Linked DNA regions of Homo sapiens. The protein of the gene in region 2 purifies or fractionates together with the protein of the main gene of each other region. This does not show direct contact. Each region holds a gene or a part of one and is shown on either strand. Other genes may lie near its edges.

What was found.
Region 1: the proteins of ZNF215 (region 2) and HERC4 purify together in Homo sapiens (affinity purification with mass spectrometry; one large-scale study listed by BioGRID and IntAct). This does not show direct contact.

The regions. Positions count from the first base shown.
Region 1 is NC_000010.11:67,956,784-67,960,283, reverse strand, and holds part of HERC4 (probable E3 ubiquitin-protein ligase HERC4), read left to right. Parts: intron 1-1,147; coding exon of another isoform or gene 1,148-1,171; intron 1,172-3,307; coding exon 3,308-3,406; intron 3,407-3,500. UniProt on the Homo sapiens protein: Probable E3 ubiquitin-protein ligase involved in either protein trafficking or in the distribution of cellular structures. Required for spermatozoon maturation and fertility, and for the removal of the cytoplasmic droplet of the spermatozoon.
Region 2 is NC_000011.10:6,953,590-6,957,628, forward strand, and holds part of ZNF215 (zinc finger protein 215), read left to right. Parts: intron 1-2,100; coding exon 2,101-2,942; 3' UTR 2,943-4,039. UniProt on the Homo sapiens protein: May be involved in transcriptional regulation.

The DNA.
Region 1 (3,500 bases), on a different chromosome or scaffold from region 2:
TTCTGTTGTCCTTTCCATGTAGAGTCATGGATGAATTACTTTCCTGGCATAGATGTGTAACAATACAGAGTATTTCTAGCCAAAGAAGCTCACCAGAACCCTGGTGCCCAGAGTTTTTACTGGGGTTCAATCACATCCTGCTCCCGTAGTGACCTCTAGTTCCCAGCTCTTCTGGAAGCAGAACTGACAGCACATGGCCCAAGCCCCTATCATAAGTCACATTGTCCAGTGGCTAAAGCGCCAGGCAAACAAAGACACTCCTATCAGGCATGATATTGCACAGGTCTATAGGTCACCTCCTAGTAACCCAGGGCAATGCCCTCTCTTCTGGGGTAAAATTAATTCCTCACAACACAAGGCACCGTCCACAAATTTAGTAACATATTTCTGAAGATTCTGGTGCTTTACACGAGTCTGTGCTCTGAGCATATGTGGAAACTTTCTACAAGAAAATGTACATTTCTGTTCAATAAAGTGGTAAGCTTTCATTATAATTTCCACTATTACTGCCTTAATAAATATATCTTTCTCTCTTCATTTCTTTTTGCTTACCAACCCTTTTTCCCTGTCCTGTACTTTCTATTTTAAATTAATTCAGTTTTAAAGAATGCTTAATGTAAGATACCTTATGTTTTACTGTTTTTTTTTCTGTCAAATAAAAACAATTTATGGCTTATTTTTTCTTACTTTGTGTCCATATGGCATTTTAATCTACTAAACACTGTCAGACATTTTGCTGAGATTTTAAAGTCTTAAAGTCTGAGGAATGTTTTTTCCATTTTTTTTAAGTAGAAAAACTGAGCCATAAATTTTTTTTTTTAAGACCAAGCCAGGCATAGGATTAGTTTTCTTATTCTGCCTAAATTCTGCAAATGGGGGTGTTTAATTGCTGAAAACAAATTTCATTATGTTCAAGCCTCAATCATTTTATGATCACAAGGTACCTGAAACAAAGATCTTACATTAGTAGATATATAAGATGCTTGTGTAGGGGGTGTATTTGATTGTAGATGTATTTTCTACCTCATTACTTCAATATTCTGCTGTAGCAAAATATATGAAATGCTACCTTGAATAGAAATAGTTAAATTTGGACACTAATATTGCTCTTTCCTCGTTATTGTTATATTCTGCACTGCTGTCTTAGGATGTCAACCATGGATTAACTGAGGTAAGTTTGGTGTAATAAAGCTCATGTTTAGAGTAAAATATACTCCATTTTCTCCTGAGTAATAGAAGAGCCAAAGATTCGTTTTTTTGGTGTGGTTAAAAAATGTAAATAAATAGATATATATGTATCATTTTTTAAAATACAGTCTGTAGAGATTATCTTGTATAACATTTCAGAAGTTTTCTGAAGAAAATGAAATTCTGTTAACATTACACCTATATGATGCCTCAACAATATTTGCTTTAGAATAGTTTCTGTCCTCCTCAAGTCTTCCAGTATAAAATGTAATGTGTCCTCAGAATATAAAAAAGCAAACTTTTATTTTAAAATTTAGCAAATGCCTACCTAATGTGGCTGAAAACATTTTATATTAGAGAAGTAAAACAAACTTCATTTTTAAAATTGATTAATTGATACTCAGAATGGTCACAAAGTTAAACTTTTTGTATGATTATCTTTCTCACTTCTAATATATAAAGTTCTAGCACTTTGGTTTAAGTAATCAACAACCCTAGACTACCCTTTTAACACTTGGGAACATTATAATACTTTCTTTATCCGTTATAGATGTCAGGTTTTGCTTTGATTTGCATTTTGTTGGTTGCTATGTTTTTCCCAGCACTTGAACCAATGAAGCATTTTGAGTTAGCTTTAAATTATAGCTCTAATATTGTTTGCTTCCTCATTGTCAAATAGAATTAGCACATAAAATTATGAAAACATAGAGTTTTGAAGCCAAAGGGTGCTTTGGAGATATCTAAATCTTTTTGAATTTCAGAGAAGTAAAATTAGTTTTTATGATCATTAGCTAGGCAGTGCCACAAATATAGGATGGAGGTAAACCTTGTCACATGAAAAATACTGAAGAGTGAATGTTTAGAATGTAATAAAATACAATTTAGGGAGAGCATGATTAGGACTTAAAATATTTAAACTACGTACACTTCCCAGCAGGGGCAAAGCAAAGACTAAATGATGCATAGTGATATATAGAAATGCAGATTCAGGCTGGGCACAGTGGCTCACGCCTGTAATCCCAGCACTTTGGGAGGCCGAGGTGGGCGGATCATGAGGTCAGGAGTTCAAGACTAGCCTGGCCAACCTAGTGAAACCCCATCTCTACTAAAAATACAAAAAATTAGCCGGGTGTGGTGACAGGCACCTGTAATCCCAGCTACTCGGGAGGCTGAGGCAGGAGAATCGCTTGAACCCCAGAGGCGAAGGTTGCCGTGAGCCTAGATCGCACCATTGCACTCCAGCCCCGGCATCAGTGCAAGACTCTGTATGGGGGAAAAAAAAATGCAGATTCAGACTATAAAGAACTGTCTAATCACTAAGAAGTGGATTGTTTTAGGGTGTATTAATTCTTCATTAGAAGTCTCATAGCAGGGGCTCTGAGTCAGGGCAGGCACAAAGATATTGTTTTACTGGGTAGATGGTAGAAGTAGGTCGTCCTCCAACTACAAGAATGTGTGACTGGCAATTCATAACTCTTTATATTTTACTGCACTATTAAAATACTTAGCAATCAATATATTACCTGCCAGGATAAGTAATTGTCTATAAAGTGTCTAATGTCTAATAATGATAATAATAGATCAGTTCTCGTAACTTTAAAGGCTAACAGAATAGTAATACTAATGGTACTTTTTTGTATATTAAGTAAATGAAGAGATTATTGGACTCATAATAATTTTGATACCCTAATGACATTATACTCAATATCTGTTAAATGAAGGAATAGACAGATTACTTATCATTAGCCTCAGTTGCTGCAGTTGCCCTAACATGTAAGAATTGGCTATCGCATTTAACATAGGAGCCCCCAATTTTAGAACAAATTTGCAACCTCATTCACTGAGATTTGCAATTAACATATGCTAAGCAAAAGATACTTGCAGTATATGATTGTATAGACTCTCAAGTATACAGTCGCCCCCTAAAATTGGGAATTGGGTTCATTCCAATGCCTCATTTAATTTTTAATAATTCTGTAAGCAGCATGTTTTATTTGTAATTCCAGAACCACATGAGTGAATAAACAAAGAATGTAGTCCACTTTATAAGAAATGTCAGCATCCACAGTAAGTATATCACAAATCAACTTGTACTAATAAGTTAATTTTTTATTTCCAGTTGGCAGATATCCCTGTTACAATCTGTACATATCCATTTGTATTTGATGCCCAAGCAAAAACTACTCTGTTACAGACCGATGCAGTCTTACAGATGCAGGTAAAATATTATTTGAGAGGGTTTTTTTTTTTAATTGTTTCTTTGATGTTTCTGGACAGTAAATATTTGAAATTTTCCTAGGATCAGTAATGAA
Region 2 (4,039 bases):
TACTCTAAGCACTTCTCTGTATTGGTTATTCTAGTTATACATTTGTCTAAAATTTTTTCAAAGTTTTCACCTTCTTTGCCTTTGGTTTGAATTTCCTCCTGTAGCTTGAAGTAGTTTGATCATCTGAAGCCTTCTTCTCTCAACTCGTCAAAGTCATTCTCCGTCCGGCTTTGTTCCGTTGCTTGTGAGGAACTGCGTTCCTTTGGAGGAGGAGAGGCACTCTGCTCTTTAGAGTTTCCAGTTTTTCTGCTCTGTTTTTTCCCCATCTTGGTGGTTTTATCTACTTTTAGTCTTTGATGATGGTGATGTACAGATGGGTTTTTGGTGTGGATGTCCTTTCTGTTTGTTAGTTTTCCTTCTAACAGACAGGACCCTCAGCTGCAGGTCTGTTGGAGTTTGCTAGAGGTCCACTCCAGACCCTGTTTGCCTGGGTACCAGCAATGGTGGCTGCAGAACAGCGGATTTTTGTGAACCAGAATGCTGCTGTCTGATCGTTTCTCTGGAAGTTTTGTCTCAGAGGAATACCCGGCCGTGTGAGATGTCAGTCTGCCCCTACTGGGGAGTGCCTGCCAGTTAGGCTGCTCGGGGGTCAGGGTTCAGGGACCCACTTGAGGAGGCAGTCTGCCCGTTCTCAGATCTCCAGCTGCGTGCTGGGAGAACCACCGCTCTCTTCAAAGCTGTCAGACAGGGACATTTAAGTCTGCAGAGGTTACTGCTGTCTTTTTGTTTGTCTGTGCCCTGCCCCCAGAGGTGGAGCCTACAGAGGCACGAAGGCCTCCTTGAGCTGTGGTGGGCTCCACCCAGTTCAAGCTTCCTGGCTGCTTTGTTCACCTAAGCAAGCCTGGGCAATGGCGGGAGCCCCTCCCCCAGCCTCGCTGCCACCTTGCAGTTTGATGTCAGACTGCTGTGCTAGCAGTCAGGGAGACTCCGTGGGTGTAGGACCCGAGCCAGGTGCAGGATATAATCTCCTGGTGCGCCATTTTTTAAGCCTGTCGGGAAAGCGCAGTATTAGGGTGGGAGTGACCCGATTTTCCAGGTGCCATCTGTCACCCCTTTCTTTGACTAGGAAAGGGAACTCCCTGACCCCTTGCGCTTCCCGAGTGAAGCAATGCCTCGCCCTGCTTCGGCTTGCGCAGGGTGCACTGCACCCACTGTCCTGCGCCCACTGTCTGGCACTCCCTAGTGAGGTGAACCCAGTACCTCAGATGGAAATGCAGAAGTCACCCGTCTTCTGCGTCACTCACGCTGGGAGCTGTAGACCGGAGCTGTTCCTATTCGGCCATCTTGGCTCCATATATGAAATTTAATTTTTAAAAAATTGCTAGAATATAGAGTATACAGAGTATATAGAAGCTAAATGAGAGGAATTTTGAGAAAGGAAGTGGAACATAATTAAATAAAACGGAAATGAGGACAGGTGAAAGGAAGAGACCCAATCTTAATTAGAACGGTAAAGTTTTGAATTCTAGGAAGTACAGTAGAAAAGTACCAAAGCACTAATGTTGGAATTGGGAGTTATTTTGAGCCCAGAAAAAGGACTTCCTGCTATCTTATATTAGAGTTCTTTTTGCCTTTGTTATATGTAGGGAGTAATTGTGGCTGTATGGAAAATGGGGGCACTATGATTGCAAGTTTGCTTTTAGCTGGTTAAGGTATGGTGCCTGGGAATACAGACATGTTCTTAAAATTATTACTGGTGTTTTATAGAAAGGAATATTTATTGGTAAACAGCTTGGGATAAACAAGATGCTAGAAGAAGGAATATTAGGCAGAGACTTCATACACTAGTTACGAACCAGTGATAACTTGAATTATGATATGATATGCCACCCGCATCCTTGTTCATGTAAAGATATTTTACTCGAGCCCTATACCGTTTTTTTAGTATTCCAGAATAGCTCTCCTATTTTATTTACTAACCTCCTTTTAACATTTTTGTACCATTTATTTCTTTTATAAGTATTTTTTTCTAACCTTGCCTCACATTTCCATTCTGTATTTAAGACCCGTGGTATATGCATATACCTTATACAGTTCAGCCTCCATTTCCTATTGAAGCAGTTTCCCTTCTAGTTCATGGCATTTTTTATTTCTCTTTAGACATGAAGAGTATTTCTGGAGAAGAATCATCCCATGGAGTGATTATGACAAGGCTTACCGAAAGTGGACACCCTTCTTCAGATGCCTGGAAAGGTGAGAATTGGTTATATAGGAACCAGAAAAAATGGGACATAAATTTGCCACAAGAGGCTTTCATTCCTGAGACAATTTACACTGAGGAGGAAGATTTTGAATGTAGTGAAAATAAGAAAAGCTTTGATATTAATTCAGTTAGCTCAATTTGTGCTATACAAGTGGGAATTCCTTCAAGAAAGGGGTCTCCAAAATGTGATAAGTTTAAAACTTACTTCAAATTTAATTTAGACTCAGTAGGTAAGCAACATTCAGAATATGAATATGGGAATGACTTGAGTTTGAGTACAGATATTCGACACCAAAAAAGTCATACTACAATGAATTCCTATGAATGTTATCAATGTGGGAAAGCCTTCTGCCGAAGTTCATCCCTTATTCGACATCAGATCATTCACACAGGAGAGAAACCCTATAAATGCAGTGAATGTGGGAGATTCTTCAACCGACGTACAAACCTTACTAAGCATCAAAAACTTCATGCTGAAGCAAAGGCCTGCACAAGCAATAAATGTGGAAAGGCCTTCAGTAAAAGTGAAGACAGTAATAATCCAACACTCCATTTTGGAAACAATTTCTATCAATGTGTTAACTGTGGAAAATCCTTCAACCGGAGCTCCTCTCTTATTCGACACCAAATGATTCACACGGGAGAGAAACCATTCAAATGTAAGGAATGTAGTAAAGCCTTCAACAGGAGTTCAAACCTTGTTAAACATCAAAAACTGCATACTCGAGATAAGTCCTGAAAAAAGAAAAAATGAAAGATTACCTTCAGTCAGAATGCAGAACTCATTTAACATCATGAATTTATGCTGGATAAAATCTCATGAATATAATGTAAGAAAACATTTGTCAGATTTTTCTTTAAATGATATCACAGAATTAATGTTGGATAGAAATATCATTGGATAGAAATCTGTTTGAAGGAATTTTCCTGGTTTTCAGATGAAGCCATAAGGCTTTGGAGTTAAACCACAGTATCACCATACAAGTATTTGTTTATCATTATTTTGATATCCATTACCCTCACCTCTCCCTAGTTCATAAATAGGTCTATAGCATACTAATATCCACCTGATTTATTGACGAAGTAGACATTAGGCAAAGCCAAACAATACTCTTGGAGTTGATATTTAATAAAACTCAGCCCTTTTAAGAAGGTCACAAGAAATCATTAGCTCATGCGAATATAAGAGAATACTTCTAAGGACAGAAATCTCTGAATCAATGGCTAAGACAACAGTAACAGCCATTTACTCCACTCCTGACAATACCCTTTGTTGTCTTGCTGTTGAATGGAGACTAGAGTTGGGAAAGGGTTATCAACTGCAATGGGAGAAGTATGTATTGCTGTTAATCTATATGTATTCTTAAAATCTGCATTTGTTTATAGCAGGTCCTTGAAAAATGTTTTTGTTTTGTTATAATGTTATAATTGTTATGATGTTGATGAGAAAAATATCGATTCCCAGCCAGGGACACTGTGTGGAGTTCGCACACTCTCCCTATGTCTCCGGGTGCTCCAGTTTCAAACCCCAAAGATGTATACATTAGGTTAATTGACATATCTAAATTATCTCAGTCTGAGTTTGTGAGGAAGTGTGCCCTGCAGTGGAATGGCTCCTAATCAGGGTTTGTTCCCACCATTGCCCTGAGCTGCTAGGATGCGCTCTGTCCACCCATGGCCCTGTACTGGAATAACAGGGTAAATAATTATCTTATCTGTTTTTATTAATCCGTCTTAAATGTGTATATAGCTCAGATTTATTTTAATGTCTGATATTGGAAGCGTTTGGGGTCTTTAGAAGTTTGATGATGTTGTGACCAGACATTTGCCTTAGGA